Regions from separate parts of the Homo sapiens genome. Here region 2 is linked to region 1. The links come from fine-mapping of genetic effects on gene expression. A gene starts in region 1. The other region holds a variant in brackets. All regions are shown on one strand. Distances are between the middles of the regions.

Evidence for each region. PIP is the estimated chance that this variant, and not a neighbour inherited with it, causes the effect.
Region 2: its variant is fine-mapped to the expression of LRRC2 in cerebellar hemisphere (GTEx, PIP 0.98).

What each region holds. Positions count from the first base shown.
Region 1 is chr3:46,560,297-46,571,255 of GRCh38, forward strand. LRRC2 (leucine rich repeat containing 2) reads right to left here and starts at 6,006. Exons shown (of 9, transcript NM_024512.5): 1 at 5,881-6,006. RefSeq lists enhancers at 2,621-3,122, 3,794-4,704, 4,705-5,615, 5,883-6,177.
Region 2 is chr3:46,650,320-46,661,278 of GRCh38, forward strand. No RefSeq gene overlaps it. Among named protein-coding and RNA genes, the nearest start is that of ALS2CL, 38 kb to the right of the region's middle. RefSeq lists an enhancer at 10,476-10,959. The variant T/C (reference allele first, on the strand shown) is at 6,729.

The DNA.
Region 1 (10,959 bases):
GACACAGGTGCCAGTCCCTCAGCAGCTCAGGGGAGAGATCTCCTCACAAATTTACAAAGCTAATCTCTTCTTTGTAAAATAAACTCTAGTCAACACAATCTTTCAGGCAAAGACATAGAATGCAATGTCCTAAGCATTAACTTTCTTTAGGACTATAGAAATGTCATCATCATCATATGCTACCCCAACACAGAAAAGGGAAAAATTAACCTCTACGGGATCCAGTCAAGAGACCCTCAATACAAACAAAGCAATATCCTCTTATAGGAAACTTTACAACGAAGTAGATTCTACAAAGCAGCCTAAGTGTAAAGCTTCAGCCTGGACCCTCGTTGAATTTGACAGCAAAGTGTCATGGTTCCAAGACAGCATCTGATTCCGGTTCCCTGCTGTGGGTCTGGTTTTGTGTGGTTGTAGCAGAATTATGAGAACAAGCCTCCCTCAATTTGGGCTACACTGTCCACAGTCACAGAGCATCTTCCAGAGAAGAAAACACCTGCAATGATGAGACAGAAGGAGAACGGTGGCATCTCTCACTGTAAAGGAAAGAACACTGGGGCCACAAAGTGTCATCAGCCATGTTCCTCTCCAGTCCAAGGACTCCCAGACACTTAGTGTTCCAGCTCCTGAGTGAAAATGTTAACCATCAGCACACTCTCAAAGGTTAGATTAAGGAAAATAATGCCTGGAAAATCTTTTGTTTTAGTACAGGGCTGAGAAAACTTGATGGTAAATAATAGAGGTTTCCCAGGCCAATAAGCAAAATTGAAGATATATGTAGGCGTTTACATAACAAAGGAGAACCCTCTGGCGAGCCTCTCCCTGCTTGCCCCCAGAGAACCATCCGGAGTAGTTAGCATGTTTCATGTCCAGCTGCTGCTTGCCAAAAACATTCTCAGAACAAGAGGGACTAGCCCAAGAGGGAAAGGGCTAGTAGGTATGGTGAAAAAGGGGCAGGGTGGCTGGGTGCAGTGGCTCCCACCTGTAATCACAGCACTTTGGGAGGCTGAGGTGGGTGGATTGCTTAAGCTCAGGAGTTTGAGAGCAGCCTGGGCAACATGGCAAAACCCTGTCTTTACCAAAAATAAAAAATAAAATGAATAAATAAAATAGCTGGGTGGTGGCATGCATCTGTGGTCCCAGCTACTAAGGAGGTTGATGTGAGAGGATCACTTGGGCCTGGGAGGCAGATGTTGCAGTGAGCTGAGATTGCATCAGTGCACTCCAGCCTGGGTCTCAAAAAAACAAAAAGAGAGGGGAGAGGTTGGCAGGGGAAGGGGCCGGGGAGTGAGCCTGCTGCAGTCCATTTCTTTCTCTGCCCCAGTATCACCCAGACAGGTGCCTGTGTGTCCTTCTCTCCTCCCGTCATCACAAGTTGGATAGCTGGCTGGAAGCAAGGTGACCTACTCAGTCACCAGCTCCTGAACTGAGATTCCATTGCTTGGTTGCTAACAATAGAGTCTCCAATGTGTAGATGGCAACCAGGGTGGGCCCTGGACTGCAGCAAGGTACAGCTGGCCAGGTGGACAGGAGCTGAGAGCAGTGGGGGAGTAGAAACAGAAGAAAATACCCCAGCTTGGTCCCCAGATGCTCCAGCAGTGCCCACATTCCATATGTAAACAGGTGCCAGGCCTGCAGGTTATAGTTTACTGATCCTAGCTTTAGTGGACAATAAAATGTAAAATATTTTGCTTTGGTGGATGTGATGGTTTTAAACTATATCCACAAAGTCTTTCACATTCTTCCCTTTAAAAAGGTAGAACTTAATTCCTCCCCCCTTGAGCATGGGCTAGACTTAGTGACTCACTTCTAATGACTAGAATGTGGTGAAAGTAATGGTGTGTGGCTTCTGAGACTAGGTCTTCACTCTCTGTCAGATCACTCACTCTAGGAAGTCAGCTGCCATGTCATGATGATGCTCAAGCAGCCTTGTGGAAAAGCTTCACAAGGAGAGGAACTGAGGCCTCCTGTCAACAGCCATGAGAGGGGGCTGTCTTAAAAGCAGATCCTCCATCCCCAGTCAAGCCTTCAGATGACGGCAGCCCCTGTGGACATCTTGACCACAACTTCATGAGACCCTAAGCCAGAAACACTCAGCTAAACTGCCCTGGATTTCTGACTCTCAGAAACTGTGAGATAATAAATGTGTGTTATTCTAAACTAACAGTCTAGAATAAACTGTTATGCAGCAATAAATAACCAAGACAGTGGATTTTTATAAAAGACACTTTAAAAATCAGTCTTAACTTCTGGTGCCATCTGGTGTGCATGTTCAGCTGCCTCCTTGAATATGCACTTGGATGTCTCACACATATCTCAAAGAAACATGATGTTCTCCAAACTTGCTCCTTTAGAGTTTGTCCATCCTAGGCCTCCTTTAATTCCACACCTCAGGAATGACTCCATCATAATCTAGAAGATCTAGAAGTTACTTCTTTTTTTTTTTTTTTGAGATGAAGTCTCACTCTGTCACCCAGGCTGGAGTGCAGTGGCACAATCTCAGCTCACTGCAAACTTCACTTCCTGGGTTCAAGCAATTCTTCCTCAGCCTCCTGAGTAGCTGGGATTACAGGCAAAAGCCACCATATCCGGCTAATTTTTGTATTTTTAGTAGAGATAGGGTTTCACCATGTTGACCAGGCTAGTCTCAAACTCCTGACCTCAGGTGATCTGCCCGCCTCGGCATCCCAAAGTGCTGAGATTACAGGTATGAGCCACTGTACTCGGCCAGAAGTCACTTCTTTTGCTTCGTTTCCTCACTCTGCCCACCCACTATGCAGATAGTATGCACACACACACATGCATGCACACACACACACATTCATCCACACCTCCAGTTATCACCTACATCTTAGAGGGCATGCATTTCTCACCACCAACTAGTGTCACGCCTTGCCTCAGTTGGGGAAAGGCCCCCTAATTGGTCTCCTGGCTTCCCACTCAACCCCATCTTCTACTCAATAGTGAGAGTCACTTTCCAATGAGAACTAGATCATGCCACCACCTGGCACAAATCTCCCCAAGGCCTGCCTTTGAAATGAGAATGAGATCCCAGCTTTCCACAGAGGCAGTGAGCCCCTGGCATGGTCTGCCCTCGGCCTGCCCATCCCACCTCACCCCTCCTGCTCCCCTCCTCTGTGCTTATCCACCCCACGCCTCTTCCCCCTCAGAGCTCAGCACACACTGCTCCCTCAGCCTAGAGCATTCCTCCCCAAGTCACATGGCTTCCTCCCCACACCCCTGGAACCCACCTTAAATGTTTTCTCCTGTCTGGCCTTCCCAGCCTCCTCATCTAAAGTAAACCCGCCTGTTATTTTATTTCTCAGTCTACTGTTTATTTGCATCACAATACTTCATGCAAGTTAAAGTATTTGATTCATTATATTTTGTCTGTCCATGGACCAAGCCATAGACGAGCCACAGTTTACTGACAGGAGCAGCCACTTGGGAGTCCCCAGACTTGGGTTCACACACCGGCCCCCATGAGTTCAGCTGAGCAGGTCATACTGTAGCATACGATGGGAACTGGTGGGGCCTCTCCATCACCTTGTCCAAGCCCCTGCAGACAGAGGTGTGCTATGGCCATCAAATGAGGGGGTTTTGAGTAGTCCAAGGGCTACAGATGCCAGTCTCCTGCTTCTGAACCTCAACACAGAAACCGTGTGTACTGAGCCAGTGTACTTAGTTTGTATTTCTGTTTTTCAATGCCTAGGAACCCTAAGTGACATTTATGGACATTCATTAAATGCAGAAAGACAGAAGCCTTGTCCATGACTCCAAGTTCCCAATCTAGAGGGGAGAGCATCAAAGGATATATTTGAGCACAGCACGTTCATTAGACAACAGAGGCTGAACCAACCCCTGTAGAAGCCAAAAGAGAAAGGGTGGGGGAGGGGTTGGGAGAGTCCTGCAGGGACCTTGAGGAAGGGGAAAGGGCTGACAGGGCAGGTTTGGCTGAATAACTTTCCACACCCTCCTCCCCAACCCAGTTATATCAGAACCACTTTACAGAGCCATCCACTTTACAGAGCCATCCACTTTACAGAGCCAGAGGGCATGACTGGAAAAACATGTCCCCTGGCACCAGGGCACTAGTCTCCACTCAGAAGTCATATGCCAGGGGGAGGGGGGGTTTTCCGGTCACCTAGTCCTCTCCCTTCTTGTCAAATTACACTGGGTTGCTAGGTAGGAGGTGTGGAGTGGGTGCAGGGTTAACCTCTCAGAGCATCCTAAGAAGGATCTGGGGGAGTTTGGGAGGAGACTCAACAAAGTCTGGGAGGAGACTCACCTCATCATGCAGGTGCCAAGCCATTCTTGGCACTCCCACTGGGAGGCTGGGAGGGGGACAGGAGCAAGGGATGGAGCAGGAGAGGAGGACGGAGCTGATGCCAGAGGTCACCTTAACCAGCCATGCAGAGAGAGGCTCTCTCCTCCACACCTGCCCCTCAGAACTCCCAGGACCCCTCCACCCCAGGCTGCCCAGCTCCAAGCCCTCCACAGCACCCTTCCAGGCGTGTCATCAATGTAAGGAAAACCTCTATCATCAGCCTTGCTGTATCCAAGAGAACCACTGTAACCCATGGGAATTTCTGGGGGCACCAAGATACAATGGGCAATAATATGACAACCAAGGAGCTTTGGTGACTCACAAATTCCATTCTATCCTCACATAAGGCCACTGCCTGGACACCAGCGTTGGAATGAACGCAGTGAGTTTTCTGATAGAAACGGGGGTAAATAGGAGCTAAATAGTCAAGTAAGGTCAGTATAGTCAGCCAAATTCTGAATTAAATGACATTTATGCCACATGATCAGAGTTTCCCTGGGGACTTCTGATTAATTTTATTGTAATTTGTTTAGCTAGAAAATCCAGCCAGGGGAGGCAGAGGGTCCAGACGGGATTAAGAGGGCAATTCCAAGGCCAAGCTGCCTGGGCGGGAGCCCTGCCTACCCACTCTCTGGCCACATGTCCCTGAGAACACAGCCTAACCTCTCTGAGCCTGATGTTCTCATGTGGACGTGATGGAGCAAACAGCACTGAGCTCACAGGTTGGCGAGAACATCACATAGGATCATTGTGTCAAGAGCTTAAGACAGTACCTGGCACCTAGCAAGATCAAAAAAAAGTTCAATCATTTAAAGAAAAAAGAAAGGAAACTAAGAATCCCTGTCACCAATTAAATGTAAGACAAAAACAAGAGGTATGTGAGCATCCGAGGGTTTTTCCTCCACCTGGCATGATTAGCAGAGGTTCTTTGGGTGAATAATGGGTGAACCCCCCAGTCCCTGAGTTCTGGGAGAGGGTTTGGTCCAGCAGAAGAGCTAGCAACAGGGCAGAGCCGCTAACAAGCCAGACAATTCCTCCTCCTCTGGGTCTCCAGTCACTTTCCGCCCTTGCCTCAGGCCTGTCCCCACCCCAAGCCAGGGGGCGTGAGACGCTGGAAGAAAAGACTTCCCCGCCAGGGCCATGTGTCAATCATACCATTCAGGACACAAACAAAGTTGATTTATCTCCCCTGGACAGCGCTTTGGACCAGAAAGCTTTGGGCTCAGCCTTGGGCGCCGGAGCAGTACGCGCAGGGGAACTGCTAAGCCGGAGCAAGATTCACTCGCGGGGACCCCTGCCTCCCCACGCTCTCTCCTTTCTCGCCTTCCCACCATAGTCCTGGACCTCAGATAACGGTGGATGCCTAAGCCCCAGCCGCTGTCCGGTTAGGGACGTTTACCCCTGTCGCTCCGGCAGATTGCAGGTCACCAAGGCACAGAGGAAGGATTAAACAACTGAGCGCCCGGGGCACCGGCCATCCGCCCGCGTCCTCCCACGGGGAGCGCAAGGCCCCCGCTCCCGCCCCCCGGCCACCTCGGACGCCCAGCGCTTACCTGCCCCGAGGGGCGGGCACTGACAGTCCTGGCCTGCCCGCCGCGGCTGTTTACACCGCAGAGGCTGTTTACACCGCAGAGGCTGTTTACACCCGCTGAGCAGCACGGCCGAGCCGGAAGAAGCCTCCCGTGCCTGTGCGCTAACAGGCTATATTTGTAGGCGGATAATATGATCTGGAGGACATGTGCTAAATCAACTATCTATCTATTCTATGTGACTCAGCCCAGCCTGAGACAAAACAGACTTCGTAGGGGAGGGCTTGGCACCCTGCGCGCTGCAGCCGGCCAGCGCGAGCCCCGGCCCAGGGACTATCTGCAGCCTCCTACCCAGGGCCAGACATTTTCACACTGGAGATCCCGGAGGGTGTGGAATGGAAGGGAGCTGGTTCCGAGTGCTCAGCACGCTAAGCTGGGAACCCAGCCAGACGCAGGCTTTGAAAGCCATATGACCAAGGGAATGTAAAAGTGTTTTCGATGTTGGAAGCAGCAGACATCGAAGGTCTCAATTTCACCGTTACATTTTATCTTTTTAATATCCTAAAATGTATGTGAGTTTAGGTTCTCTTTAGATACTTTACTAATTGGCCAAATATGTTTTGCTGATAGCCGACATCGTGAAAATATGACAAGTTAATAATCAGTAATCAACTCCCTGGCTGCTCCCAGGAGTCCATGTGAACACGTCCTGATCCTTAATGGCAATGGCTCCTCATATCCCTTAGCCTAAACTGAAAAATACCTTTTGTGTGATATATGTGTCATACTTCTAAAATTCATTTCCTTAAAAATCATTATTTTCTTTTCTTTTCTTTTTTTTTTTTTTTTTTTGAGAGGAGTCTCACTGTCGCCCACGCTGGAGTGCAGTGGTGTGATCTCGGCTCACTGCAACCTGCGCCTCCCGGGTTCAAGCGATCCTCCTGCCTCAGCCTCCCCAGTAGCTGGGATTACAGGCGCCTGCCACCACGCGCGGCTAATTTTTGTATTTTTGTAGAGATGGGGTTTCACCATGTTGGCCAGGCTGGTCTAGAATTCCTGACCTCAGGTGACCCGCCCACCTCGGCCTCCCAAAGTGCTGGAATTACAGGCATGAGCCACCGTGCCTGGCCTTTTGAAAATAATGCTTTTTGGTGGGGCACGGTGGCTCACGCCTGTAATCCCAGCACTTTGGGAGGCCGAGGCAGGTGGATCACCTGAGGTCGGGAGTTTGAGACCAGCCTGGCCAACAGGGAGAAACCCCGTCTCTACTAAAAATATAAAATTAGCTGGGCGTAGTGGCAGGCGCCTGCAATCCCAGCTACTGGGGAGGCTGAGGCAGGAGAATTGCTTGAACCCGGGAGGCCGAGGTTGCAGTGAGCCGAGATCGCACCATTGCACTCCAGCCTGAGCAACAAGAGCGAAATTCTGTCTCAAAAAAAAAAGGACTTTTATCTGAGAAATGCAAGTTTTTTTCATTATCAGGCCCAAGGAGACATTAAAATGAAACTGCACTCATGCCCTACTCCCCTCTTTGAGCTATATGTCTTCATCTCTTGAAATTACTTGCTATTGTCACAAGTAGCTGTAAATTAGCCTAATAGCAACACGCCAGACACTATAACCACACCCTATAGCTAAAGGATATATAGCCAATCACTTATCAATGTTATTTCTGTAAACCAATGAAAATTCATAACAAATAACTTTATATCAATCCCTCTCTGTCTCCTTCTTTTACTTTTAAAAATCCACTCATTGAGCAACTGTATGCCAATAAATTGGAAAGTCTAGAAGAAATGAACAAACTTCTAGGTACATACAACCTACAAAGATTGAATCAGGAAGAAATTCAAAACCTGAACAGACCAATAACAAGTAACAAGATCAAGGCTGTAATAAAAAGTCTCCCAGTAAAAAAATGCCCAGAACCTGATGGCTTCACTGCTGAATTCTACCAAACATTTAAAGAAGAGCTAATACCAATCCTACCCAAACTATTCCAGAAAATAGAGGAGGAAGGGATACTTGCAAACTCATTTTATAGGCCAGTATTACCCTGATACCAAAACCAGAGAAAGACACATCAAAAAAAAAGAAAACTACAGGTCAAAATTCATCTCTGATGAATATTGATGCAAAAATCTTCAACAAAAATACTGGCAAGCCGAATTCAGCACTACATTAGAAAGATCATTCACCATGACCAAGTGGAATTTATGCCTGGGATACAAGGATAGTTCAACATACACAAATCAATTGACACAATACATCAGATTAACAGAATAAAGGATAAAAATCATATGATCATTTTAACTGATGCTGAAAAAGCACTGGATAAAATTCAACATTCCTTTATGATAAAAACCCTCAAAAAAACTGAGTTTTGAAGGAACATACCTCAACATAATAAAAGCCATATATGACAGATCCACAGCTAGTATCCTTACTGAATGGGGAAAAACTGAAAGCCCTTCTTCTAATATCTGGAACACAGCAAGGATGCCCACTGTCACCACTGTTATTCAACATAGAACTGGAAGTCCTAGCTAGAGCAATCAGACAAGAGAAAGATATAAAGGGCATCCAAATTGGAAAGGAAGAAGTTAAATTATCTGTTTGCTAATGATATGGTCTTATATTTGGAAAAACCTAAAGATTCCACAAGAAAACTATTAGAACTGATAAACTAAACAAATTCAGTAAAGTTGCAAGAAACAAAATCAACATACAAAAACCAGTAGCAGGCTGGGCACAGTGGCTCACACCTGTAATCCCAGCACTTTGGGAGGCCATGGCAGGTGGATTGCTGGACCCTAGGAGTTTGAGACCAGCTTGAGCAACATGGCAAAACCCCATCTCTACAAAAAAAAAAAAAATACAAAAATTAACCAGGCATGGTGGTATATACCTGTAGTCCCAGCTACTTGGGAGGCTGAGGTAGGAGGATAATCTGAGCCCAGGAGTCAGAAGTTGCAGTGAACCGAGATTGTGCCATTGCACTCCAGCCTGGGAAACAGAGACCCTGTCTTAAAAAAAAAAAAAAAAAAAAAAAAAAGTCAGTAGCATTTCTATAGGCCAACAGTGAACAATATGAAAATGAAATTTAAAAAGTAATCCCATGTACAATAACCACACATAAAATTAAATACCTAGGAATTAACTTAACCAAAGAAGTGAAAGATCTCTATAATAAAAACTATAAAACGCTGATGAAGGAAATTGAAGAAAATACCAAAAAATGGAAAAACATTCCATGTTCATGTGTTGGAAGAATCAATGTTGCTAAAATGTCCACACTACCCTAAGCAATCTACAGATTCAACGCAGTCCCTATCAAAATACTGGACATTTTTCACAGAAATAGAAAAAACAATTCTAAAATTTATATGAAACCACAGAAGACCCAGAATAGCCAAAGCTACCCTAAGCAAAATAACAAAACTGGAGAAATCACATTACCTGACTTCAAATTATACCACAGAGCTATAGTAACCAAAACAGCATGGTACTGGCATAAAAACAGACACATAGACCATGGAACAGAATAGAGAACCCAGAAACAAATCCACACACCTACAGTGAACTCATTTTTGACAAAGGAACCAAGAACATATGCTAGGGAAAAGAACAGTCTCTTCAATAAAAGGTGCTGGGAAAACAGGATATCCATATGCAAAAGAATGAAACTAGACCCCTATCTCTCACCACATACAAAAATCAAATCAAAATGGATTAAAGACTTAAATCTAAGACTTCAAACTATGAAACTACTACAAGAAAACATTGGGCAAAATCCCCAAGACCTTGGTCTGGTCAATGCCATAACCACAGGCCACAACCACACAAATACCCCACAAACACAGGCAACCAAAGCAAAAATGGACAAATAGGATTACATCAAGTTAAAAAGCTTCTGCATAGCAAAGGATAAAATCAACAAAGTGAAGAGACAACCCACAGAAAGGGAGAAAATATTTTCAAACTACCCATTTGATAAGAGATTAATAATGAGAATATATAAGGAGCTCAACGCTATAGGAAAAAAATCTAACAATCTGATCAAAAAAACTGGGCAAAAGATTTGAATAGATTTCTCAAAAGAAGATATACAAATGGCACACAGGCATATGAAAGGATGCTCAACATCACTGATCATCAGAGAAATGCAGATCAAAACTACAATAAGATATCATCTCAACTCAGTTAAAATGGCTTATATCCAAAAGACAGGCAATAACAAATGCTGGTGAGGATGTGGAGAAAGGGAACCCTTGTACACTGTTAGAGGGAATGTAAATTAGTACAACCACTATGGAGAACAGTTTGGAGATTCCTCAAAAAACTAAAAATTGAGCTACCATATGAGCCAGAATTCTACTGCTGGGTATACACACAAAAGAAAGGAAATCAGTATATCAAAGAGATATCTGCATTCCTGTTTGTTGCAGCACTGTTTACAATAACCAAGATTTGGAAGCAACCTAAGTGTCCATCAGCAGATGAATGGATAAAGAAAATGTGGTACATATACACAATGGAATACTATTCAGCCATAAAAAAGAATGAGATCCAGTCATTTGCAATGACATGAATGGAACTGGAGATGATTATGTTAAGTGAAATAAGCCAGGCACTGAAAGACAAACATCCCATGTTCTCACTTCTTTGTGGGATCTAAAAATCAAAGTAGCGCTGGGTGTGGTGGTTCGTGCCTGTAATCCCAGCACTTTGGAAGGCCGAGTCAGGTGGATCACCTGAGGTCCGGAGTTCGAGACCAGCCTGTCCAACATAGTGAAACCCTGTCTCTACTAAAAATACAAAAAATTAGCCAGGCATAGTGGCAGGCACCTGTAATCCCAGCAACTCAGGAGGCTGAGGCAGGAGAATCATCTGAACCCTGGAGGTGGAGGTTGCAGTGAGCTGAGACTGTGTCACAGCCCTCCAGCCTGGGAGACAAGAGTGAGACTCCGTCTCAAAAAAAAAAAAAAAGAAAAGAAAAGAAATTAGCCAGGTGTGGTGGCACGTGCCCGTAGTCCCAGCTACTCGGGAAGCTGAGGCATGAAAATCACTTGAACCCAGCAGCAGGTAGAGGCTGCAGTAAGC
Region 2 (10,959 bases), 90 kb after region 1:
CATACCAGACAGAGCAGACTTCAAAGCAAGAAAAATTATCAGAGATAAAGAGGGCATGACATACTAATAAAGGGGTCAATTGTCCAAGAAGACATAACTATCCTTAATGTGTACGCACGTAATAATAGAGTGGCAAAATACTTGAAGCAAAAACTGACAGAACTGCAAGAGAAATAGATGAATTCCGTTAATATAGTTGGACTCAACACCTCTCTATCAGAAATGGACAGATCCAGATCATGAAGAGATTTATCATTTGTCTGATGTATCTGGGGTGGGGAAAAGAAAGAAAGAAATGGACAAATCCAGCAGGTAGAAAATCTGTAAGGACATAGTTGAATTAAACAGCACCATCAATCAACAGGATATAATTGACATCTATCAACTACTTTATCCAACAACAGTAAATACACACAAGATCACATGGAATATTCACCAAGATAGACTACATTCTAGCCCATAAAAAAAAGTTAGCAAATTTAAAATAATAGAAATAGCAATCAATAACAGAAAGATAGCTGGAAAATACCAAAGCACTTGGAGATTAAACAATACACTTCTAAATGACACGTGGGTCAAAGAAGAACTATCAGGAGAAATTTTAAAATCTTCTGAACTAAATTAAAATGAAAATACAACTTACCAAAATGTGTGGTATGCACCAAAAGCTGTGCCTACAGGGAAATTTCTAGTATTAAATGCATGTATTAGGAAATAAGAAGGATCTAAAATTATCTAAGCTTCCACCTTAGAAAACTATAAAAAAGAGCAAATTAAATCCAAAGCAGAAGAAAATAAATAATAAAAATTTTAACAGAAATCAAAGAAATTGAAAACAATTCAAATTGAAATACATGAACTGAAAACAAGGAAATTGACAGAGAAAATCAACAAAATCAAAAGCTGGTTCTTTGAAAAGATCAATAAAATCAATAGGCATCTGGCCAGCTAACTGAGAAAAAAAGAGAGAAGACACAAATCAGAAATAAAAGAGATGACATCACCACAGATCTTAGGGACATTAGAAGAATGAGAAACAAATACTATGCCCACAAATTTGATAACCTAGATGAAATGGACCAATTTCTTAAAAGACACAACTACTGAAACTACATATGTAAAAATAGACAATCAAAATAGGCCTATATCTATTAAAGAATTCGAATAAAAAATTAATAACCTTCAAAAACAGAAAGCAGTAGGCCCAAATGGGTTTATTGTTTAACTGTACATCCAACATTTAAGGAAAAAATAATACTAATTCTCTACAATCTCTTCCAGAAGATATAAGCAGAGGAAATCATTTCTAACTCATTCTATGAAGCCAGCATTTATCCTAATACCAAAACCAGACAAATAAATTACAAGAAAACTACAGACCAATGTCTTTTGTGAACATAGGTGCAAAAATCTTCAACAAAATATCAGCAAATAAAATCCAACAATGTATGAAATGAATCATATACTACCACAAAGTGGGCTTTATCGCAGGTATGCAAGACTGGCTCAACATACAAAAATCAATTAATGTAATCCATCACATCCACAGACTAATGAAGAAAAATCACGATTATATCCATAGATGCAGGAAAAACACTTCACAAAACCCAATACTCATTCACGATAAAAACTCTCAGCCAACTAGGAATAGAAGAGAGTTTCCTTAACTTGATAGAGAACAAGATTTCAACTTGATAAAGATCTACAAGAAAACCTACAGCTAACATCATACTTAATGGTGAGAAACTAGAAGCTTTCCTGCTAAGATCAGGAACAAGGCAAGGATATCCCTGATATCCCCTTTCACCACTCCTTTTCAACATCATACTGGCAGTCCTAGCTAATGCAATAAGACAAGAAAAGGAAATAAAAGGTATAGAGATTGGGAAGGAAGAAATAGAACCATCTTTGTTTGCGGAGGGCATGATTGTCTGTCTTTGTAGAAAGTCTGAAGGATTTGACAAGTCTATGGCCTTACCACCCTGAATGCACCCAGTCTTTTCTGAAAGAGTTCACACACACACAAACACACATACACACACACACACGATCCTCCTGGAACTACTAAGCAATTATAGCAAGGTTGCAAGATAAAAGATTAATATACATAAGCCAATCTCTTTCCTGTATACCAGCAATGAACAGTGGAATTTGAAATTAAAAACACATTACTATTTACATCAGCAATAAAAAAAGAAATACTTTGGTATAAATCTAACAAAATATGCACAAGATCCAGGAAAACTACAAAAGCCTAATGAAAGAAATCAAAGAAGTAAATAAATGGAGAGATAACTTAGTCTATGTTCATGGATAGGAAGACTCAATATTATCAAGATGTCAGTTCATCCCAGTTTGAACTATAGAGTCAGCATAATCCCAATCAAAATCCTAACAAGTTATTTTGTGGATATTGACAAACCAATTCTAAAGTTTACATATCTAAAGGCATAAGATCCAGAACGGCCAACACAATATTGAAGGAGAACAAAGTCAGAGCACTGTTACTACCCAACTTTAAGACTTACTATAGGTTGGCACAGTGGCTCATGCCTGTAATCCCAGCACCTTGGGAAGCCGAGGTTGGTGGATCACCTGAAGTCAGGAGTTCAAGACGAGCCTGGCCAACATAGTGAAACCTTGTCTCTACTAAAAATACACGCCTGGGACTACAGGCGTGGTGGTATGTGCCTGCAGTCCCAGCAACTTGGGAGGCTGAGGCACAAGAATTGCTTGAACCCGGAAGGTGGAGGTTGCAGTGAGCTAAGATCACACCACTGCACTCCAGCCTAGGTGACAGAGTGAGACTCCATCTCAAAAAAAAAAAAAAAAAAAAGACATATTATAAAGCTACAGTAATTAAGGCAGTGTGGTATTGGTAAGAGGAGAAACAAATAGATAAATGGGACAGAATTGAGAGCTTAGAAATAGGCCCACATAGATATAGCCAACTGATTTTTTACAGAGGAGCAAAGGCAATACAATGGAAAAAAGATAGTCTCTTCAACAAATGGTGCTGAAACACCTGGACATTTACATGCCAAAACATGAATCTAGACACACGCCTTACACTTTTTGCAAAAATTAAAACAAAGTGGATCATAGACCTGAATGTAAAACTGTGAAACTCCTAGAAGACAACATAAGAGAAAATCTAGATGACCTTGGGTATGGCAATGACCTTTTAGATACAATCCATGAAATAAATAATTGATAAGCTGGACTTCATTAAAATTAAAAACTTCAGCCTGGTGCAGTGGTTCATGCTTATAATCCCAACAGTTTGGGAGACTGAGGTGGGAGGATCACTTGAGCCCAGGAGTCTGAGACCAGCCTGGGCAACATGGCAAAACCCCGTCTCTACAAAAAATACAAAAATTAGCCGGGTGTGGTGGTATGCACTTGTAGTCCCAGCTACTCAGGAGGCTGGGATGGGAGTATCACCTGAAGTCATGGCTGCAGTGAGCTGTGATTGTGCCACTGCACTCCAGTCTGGATGAAATCCTGTATCAAAAAAAAAAAAAAAAAGATTTAAAAACTTCTAGCCGGGCGCGGTGGCTCACGCCTTTAATCCCAGCACTTTGGGAGGCCAAGGCAGGTGGATCATGAGGTCAGGAGTTTGAAACCAGCCTGACCAATATGATGAAACCCCGTCTCTACTAAAAATACAAAAATTAGCTGGGTGTGGTGGTGCGCGCCTATAATCCCAGCTACTCAGGAGGCTGAAGTAAGAGAATTGCTTGGAGCCGGGAGACAGAGATTGCAGTGAGCTGAGATTGCGCCATTGCACTCCAGCCTGGGCAACAGAGCGAGAGCGAGACTCCGTCTCAAAACAACAACAACAACAACAACAACAACAACAACAACAACAAAAAACCTTCTGCTTTGTGAAAGGCACTGTCAAGAGAAGGAGAAGAGAAGTCATAGACTGGGAGAAAATATTTCTGCCAAATATATGCCTGACATAAGACTGTAATGCAAAACAAAGAACTCTTTAAAAAACAATAAGTAAAAGAACAGTTTGATTTAAACATGGGCAAAAGACCTGAAGACACCTCACCAAAGGAGAATACAGATGGCAAGGGGTTTATTTCTGGGCTTTTCAGTGTGTTTCATTGGTCTATATCTCTGTCTCCATGCCAGTACCACACAGAGGATTTTTAGGGCAGTGAAACTATTCTGTATGATTCTATTAATGACGGATCTATGTCATTATACATTTGTCAAAACCCATAGAATGAACAATACTAATGTAAATTTTGGACTTTGGGCAATAATGACATGTTAATGAAGGTTCATTGGTTTTAACAAGCACCATTCTGGTGCAGATTGTTAATAGATGGGGAGGCTATGCATGGATAGGGGCTAAAGGTGTGTGGGAACTCTGCACTTTCTGTATACTTTTGCTGTGAACCTAAAACTACTCTAAAAACTATGTGTGTGTGTGTGTGTGTGTGTGTATTTTGAGACAGAGTCTTGCTTGGTCTGTTGCCCAGGCTGGAGTGCAGTGGGGCATCTCGGCTTGCTGCAACCTCCGCTTCCCGGGTTCAAGCAATTCTCCTGCCTCAGCCTCCCGAGTAGCTGTGATTACAGGCACCTGCCACCGCGCCCAGCTAATTTTTGTATTTTTAGCAGAGACGGGATTTCATCACAGTGGCCAGGCTGGTCTTGAACTCCTGACCTCAGGTGATCTGCCCACCTCAGCCTCCCAAAATGCTGGGATTACAGGTGTGAGCCACCACACCTGACCAAAAAAAGAAATCTATCTTTTAAAAGTCTAATGAAAAGCTGATATGCAGCCAAGAATATGAAAGATGCCAGTGAGTTGCCTTTTAATCCATAAAAATTAATTAGGTATTATCATCATCAACATTTTTCTAAACAGAAGTTAAATGTTGCATCTGATGTTAAATGTTGTTGAAGTAGCAGAGTGAGGCTTTAACTCTTAGACTATGTGATTCCAAATTCTCTGCTAGCTCAATAGCATTGGAATAGCAATGAGATTTCATGAAAAATGATGAAGGCAAGTAAAGGTATCCTTTTGCTATGGAGTAGAAAGTTCTACCACAGGGATATCCAGGAAGTGAGAAAAGCCAGAAGAGATAAATGTGGCAGCCTCGGCTGGTCAGAGAATAATTCCCAAAGGAGATGATGCATGTGCTAAGAGTTTCTCAGCAAGTAGAAATGAACCTGTGGAACTCAAACAACTCAGCAAGAAAAAAACAAATAATCCCATCAAAAAGTGGGCGGTGGATAAGAATAGACAGTTCTCGGCCGGGCACAGTGGCTCACGCCTGTAATCCAGCACTTTAGGAGGCTGAGGTGGGCAGATCACGAGGTCAGGAGATCAAGACCATCCTGGCTAACACGGTGAAACCCCGTCTCTACTAAAAATACAAAAAATTAGCGGGGCATGGTGGCGGGCACCTGTAGTCCCAGCTACTCAGGAGGCTGAGGCAGGAGAATGGCGTGAACCCAGAAGGCGGAGCTTGCAGTGAGCCGAGATCGCACCACTGCACTCCAGCCTTGGGCAACAGAGCGAGACTCCACCTCAAAAAAAAAGAAGAAGAATAGACAGTTCTCAAAAGAAGATATACAGTCAACAAACACATGAAAAAAATGCTCAACATCACTAATCATCAGGGAAATGCAAATTAAAACTACAATAACATACCACCTTACTCCTGCAAGAATGGCCATAATTAAAAAGTCACAAAACAATAGATATTGATGGTGTGGAAGTAGTGAAAAGAGAACACTTTCACATTGCTGGTGGGGATGTAAATTAGTACAACCATACTGTAGAAAACAGTGTGGAGATTCCTTAAAGAACTAAAAGTAGATCTACCATTCAATCCAGCAATCCCACGACTGGGTATCTACCCAGAGGAAAAGAAGTCATTACATGAAAAAGACACTTGCACACGCATGTTTATAGCAGCACAATTCACAATTGCAAAGATATGGAACCAATCTAAATGCCCATTGACCAACAAGTGGATCAAGAAAATATGGTATATATACATCATGGAATACATCTCAGCCATAAAAAGGAACAAAATAATGTCTTTTGCAGCAACTTGGATGGAGCTGGAGGCCACTATTCTAAATGAAGTAACTTAGGAATGGAAAACCAAATACCATATGTTCTCACTCATAAGTGAAAGCTAAATTATGAGGACGCAAATGCCTAAGAACGTCATAATGGACTGTGGAAACTTGGGAGGGGGACAGTTGGGAGCAGAGTGAAGGATAAAAGACCATATACTGGGTACAGTATACACTGCTTTATGGATGCACTAAATCTCAGAAATCACCACGAAAGAACTTATCCATGTAACCAAAGCCCAACTATACCCCAAAAACTATTGAAATAAATATAAAAACAAATCCATTGAAGAGGCAAGCTGGATAGCTCCCATTTACCCTTTTAGACCTGCTCTACACTCTTTTACATCTCTCTCTGCAACCAGATTCTGGGGGCCTCTGGCTCCCAGCTGGGTGCAGCATATGGAGTGGTTGTTTTATTCTGGGCCGCCCAGTGCCAACACCAACGCATACAGCAGCCTCTGCAGGGGGCCCTCTTTCAACCCTTCTCTCACCTGTTTCTCATTAAAGTCCTTCTCTGTTGCCCCATCAGGGCTAGTAATACTAAGTGTCTCACCATTATTGCTAGCCGCAGGGTGATTCCTCTCCTTGTTAGTTTCTCTAAACACAGCCCACACTTT[T/C]GGAAAGAGGCCCTATGGTTCCATCTATCAAGAGGACCATCTGTCTCCTGCTGCAAACTTGACCAATACAGAACAACATTAAAATCAGAAGAACAATATTAAAATCAGCTGGGCATTGAGGAGTGAATGGGCATGGAGAATTAGGGTAAATTCTGGAACAGGGGTCCCCAACCCCCTTCGCAGTACTGGTCCATGGCCTGTTAGGAGCCAGGCCATAGAGCAGAAGGTGAGCAGTGGGTGAGTAAGCAAAGCTTCGCCTGTATTTACAGCCACGCCCCATCACCGGCATTACCACCTGAGCACCTCCTCCTGTCTGATCAGCAGCATTAGATTCTCATAGGAGTGCAAACCCCATTGTGAACTGCGCATGCGAGGGATCTAGGTTGCAGGTTCCTTACCATAACCTAATGCTTGATGATCTGTCACTGTCTCCCATCACCCTTTGATAGGACCATCTCTAGTTGCAGGAAAACAAGCTCAGGGCTCCTACTGACTCTGCATTCTGGTGAGTTGTATAATCATTTCTTTACATATTACAATGTAATAATAATAGAAATAAAGTGCACAATAAACGTAATGCGCTTGAATCATCCCGAAATCACCTCCCCACCCCGCCCCTAGTCTGTGGAAAAATTGTCTTCCACAAAACTGGTCTCCGGTGCCAAAAAGGTTGGGGGCCACTGTTTTAGAAGACTCATATGGCAGAATTATAGATTACAAGGTTCAATAAATGCCAGGATTGTGGCTGGAAAGGAGGGTAGAAGTCAATTCCAGAAGGTGCCTTTCCTGTTGTGCAGTTGACTCAGAACTGGGATGCTAGAAAGTTGCCCTGTGATTTGTGGAGGGAATCCACACTAACCACAGGAAATCACCCATGACATTTGCAAGACAGAAGGAAGGAGAAACTGAACTAAGGGGTGGTAGCAGAACTGGACAGGAGGTAGTGCAGAGAAGAATTATTTACATGTTGAACCAATGGAGTTAAGAACTAAATGCTGGACCTCTTTTTTTTTTTTTTTTGGTGGAGATGGGATCTCACTATGTTGCCCCAGCTAGAGTGCAGTGGTGCAAACAAGGCTCACTGCAGCCTCAACCTCTTGGGCTCAAGTAATCCTCCTGCCTCAGCCTCCTGAGTAGCTGGGACTACAGGCACATGCCACCATGCCCAGCTAATTTTTAAAATGTTTATACAGATGAGGTCTCACTATGTTGCCGAGGCTAGTCTCAAACTCCTGAGCTCAAGTGATCCTCCCACCTTGGCCTCCCTAACTGCTGGGAACCACTGCACCCAGCCTACTGGGCATTTTTTAATGCCCAGCCTTAGCAAGGCATCTGCCTCACAGCAGACACTCAATGACTAGCACCTGGTGAATTTAGTCCAGTCGCGCCTTGATCTCCACCCAGCAGGTTATCAGTATTTGACTATACTAAACATTTCATTTAAAGAATGCTTTGAGCCCGGGCATGGTGGCTCATGCCTGTAACCCCAGCACTTTGGGAGGCCGAGGCGGGCAGATCACCTGAGGTCAGGGGTTTGAGACCAGGCTGGCCAACATAGTGAAATCCCGTCTCTACCAAAAATACAAAAATTAGCTGGGCATGATGGCGCACACCTGTAATCCCAGCTACATGGGAGGCTGAGGCAGGAGAATCACTTAAACCTGGGAGGCAGAGATTGCAGTGAGCTGAGATTGCGCCACTGCACTCCAGCTTGGGTGACTGAGACTCTGTCTCAAAAAAAAAAAAATGCTCTGCATGCCCGCCTGTAACCAAAAATAAATATTAATTGCTGAGTTACTTTTACTGTGGAAAAACTACTCATCTGCTTGACATTGCTCTTTCACCAAGGGGCATTCTGTTGTTTCACCTCTGCAATTTAAAATTTCTAGTGAAATTAAATTCTGTTACTTGTTGTGGCTGTGTACCATCTTAAACTATCATTAATCACAAAGACAGATAATACCAAGGAATGATTTCAATGCCGCACCTGCAAGTGGCGGAGAACTGCAAGCTGGAATCAGCCTCTGCCGAGGTGCAGGCCCCAAGAGACAGCAGCATCTGTGTAGAAACCAAACACATGCATTTTTTTCCTCTGTGTTTATAGAATTGTCTTCCGTTTACGGTCATTGATGCTGGATTTCCACGTACACAGGGATATGAAGTTTCCCATTTTAACAGATTCCCATTTTTAAGTAGAAGTATAGAAAAACTCTAAAAGTTAAATGATGAATAGTAGGTTTGGCAAGGACTGTTCCGTTTACCTAGTGCTGCACTAAAAAGCCATCCCAAAACAATGGCTTGAAACAATAGCCGAGGTTTATTTTGCTCAGGAATCTGGGGCTGACTGGGCTGCTAGGCAGCTGTTGCCTGGGGGCATCTCTAAGGTTCCAGTCCATGGAGGCTGCAGTCACACGCGAGTGTCCTCACTCACGCGCCCAGTGTCTGGGCTGGTAAGACTCCAGGCACTGGATGCTGGATAGGCTGGGCCTATTGGGTCTCTCTCTCTGAGGCGTCCCCACACAGCAGCTCAGGGCTGCCAGACTCCCAGCATGATGGTTAAAGGCTCCCAGAACAAGGATCCCAGGAGAACTGGCAGGACCTATGTGGCTTTCTATAAGCAGCCTCAGAAGGCACTCGGCTCTCTCCTGCTGTAATCATTAAGGGCTGTGGTTTAAGGTGAGGTTCGTGGCCTCTGTGTCTTGATGGGGAGAGTGTGGAAGAATTGGTGGATATGTTTGAAAGCCACCACCAGGGCAGAAAAAAAAATACTGAGAGGCTGAACATTAGGGGATATGGGGAAATGCCCCTGCAGGTTTTGAAAGTCTTTCTCACTTGGGGTTTGCCTGACCTCCCTGCAACTCATTTCCCAGCTCTCTGCATTCTGGAAAGTCATGCCCTTCTACCTCTGGGCCTTTGACTCTGCCTTCCCCCCTGCCAGGCAAGCCATTCCTCCCTCTGGCAAATTCATTCTTCAAGATCCAGTTTCATGGTGCTGTCTGCTAAGACAGGGCCCCCACCTCTGCCCTCTTCCTGCTGTGACCACACAGACTAGGCATGTTTTGCAGACTCTTTCTCCAGAAGGACCGGGCACACAGGAAACCAATGACCACTCACTTCCCCAAGGTCATCTTTCCTCAGAGGCACTGGCAAGACTCACTGTGTAAGCACAGGTTGATTTCAGCTCACCTGCTGTCATCCGTGCTTGTCCCTGGGGATGCCTTGGCCAAACCTGAAAGAAATGCAGGAACCAGTGATGAATAGTCCTGTGCTAGTGCCTGAGACAGGCCGGGGGCCTCCTGCAGCCACTTGTCCGCACTGCTCATGTACAGATGCGTGGGTGCACCTGCTTGCTCGTATGTCCGCCTGGTTTGGCTGCATGACAGCAAGGTATAAAAGATCCTTTCTGGTTTGAAACAGTGGTTCCCTGAGGTCAAGGTATCTCCCATGTGCCTGCTGGCCCCTTTCTCTCTCCTCCAGTGCTCTCTGCCGCCCCTTAAAAGGGTCCACCACATTTCCCACGAGGATCAAAGCAATTGTGTGGGAGAGAAGAGCTTGCCTCTGAAGGCAGGCCTTGGAGATGGCCTCTTATTGATGGTCCTCACCCCTTCCTCATGGTCCTGTGCTAACCAGGCCACACAGACCGAGTCCTCACTGCACCAGGCACCGCTGCCCCAGCTCCAGGCTGCCACCCTCTGGGCTCCAGCAGCTGGGGGTGCAGAGAGCACCTGGCTCCTCAGGACACAGAGGAAGCACCTCAATGCTCCCCTGGGCAGCTCAGCCATGCAGGTCCTTTCAAGCTATCAGAGCAGGGAAAGATGTCACTGTCCCCAGAGGAGACAGTGGGCAGGGTGCATCTGTCCCAGCCATCAGCAACCTCCACCCAAAGGCACCCCATGCACTCCAGTTAGCTCTGTCTTCACATGCCCTGGCATGAGCTGCAGCACTGCTCTGAGCTCCGGGAGCCAAGGAAGACAGCCAAATCCCCTGGGGCACTAGGTCACATGGCCCTGCAGCTCGGTCCCCGTTGCCCAAGCTCTGACTTCCCACTCCTGTTCCCTGCCCTCCAGGAAAAGCCACATGTTATACTCACCCTCACCTGCACCTCCCTTCACCCCTGGGTCTGGAATTGCTGGTGGGTTCAGGGATGAAGGATTTCCCACTGAGCAGACCTTGGGTGTGGACTTGAAGCTTCAAACCCTCCTTGCTCACTTCTCGGCTTAGTGCTGGGGCA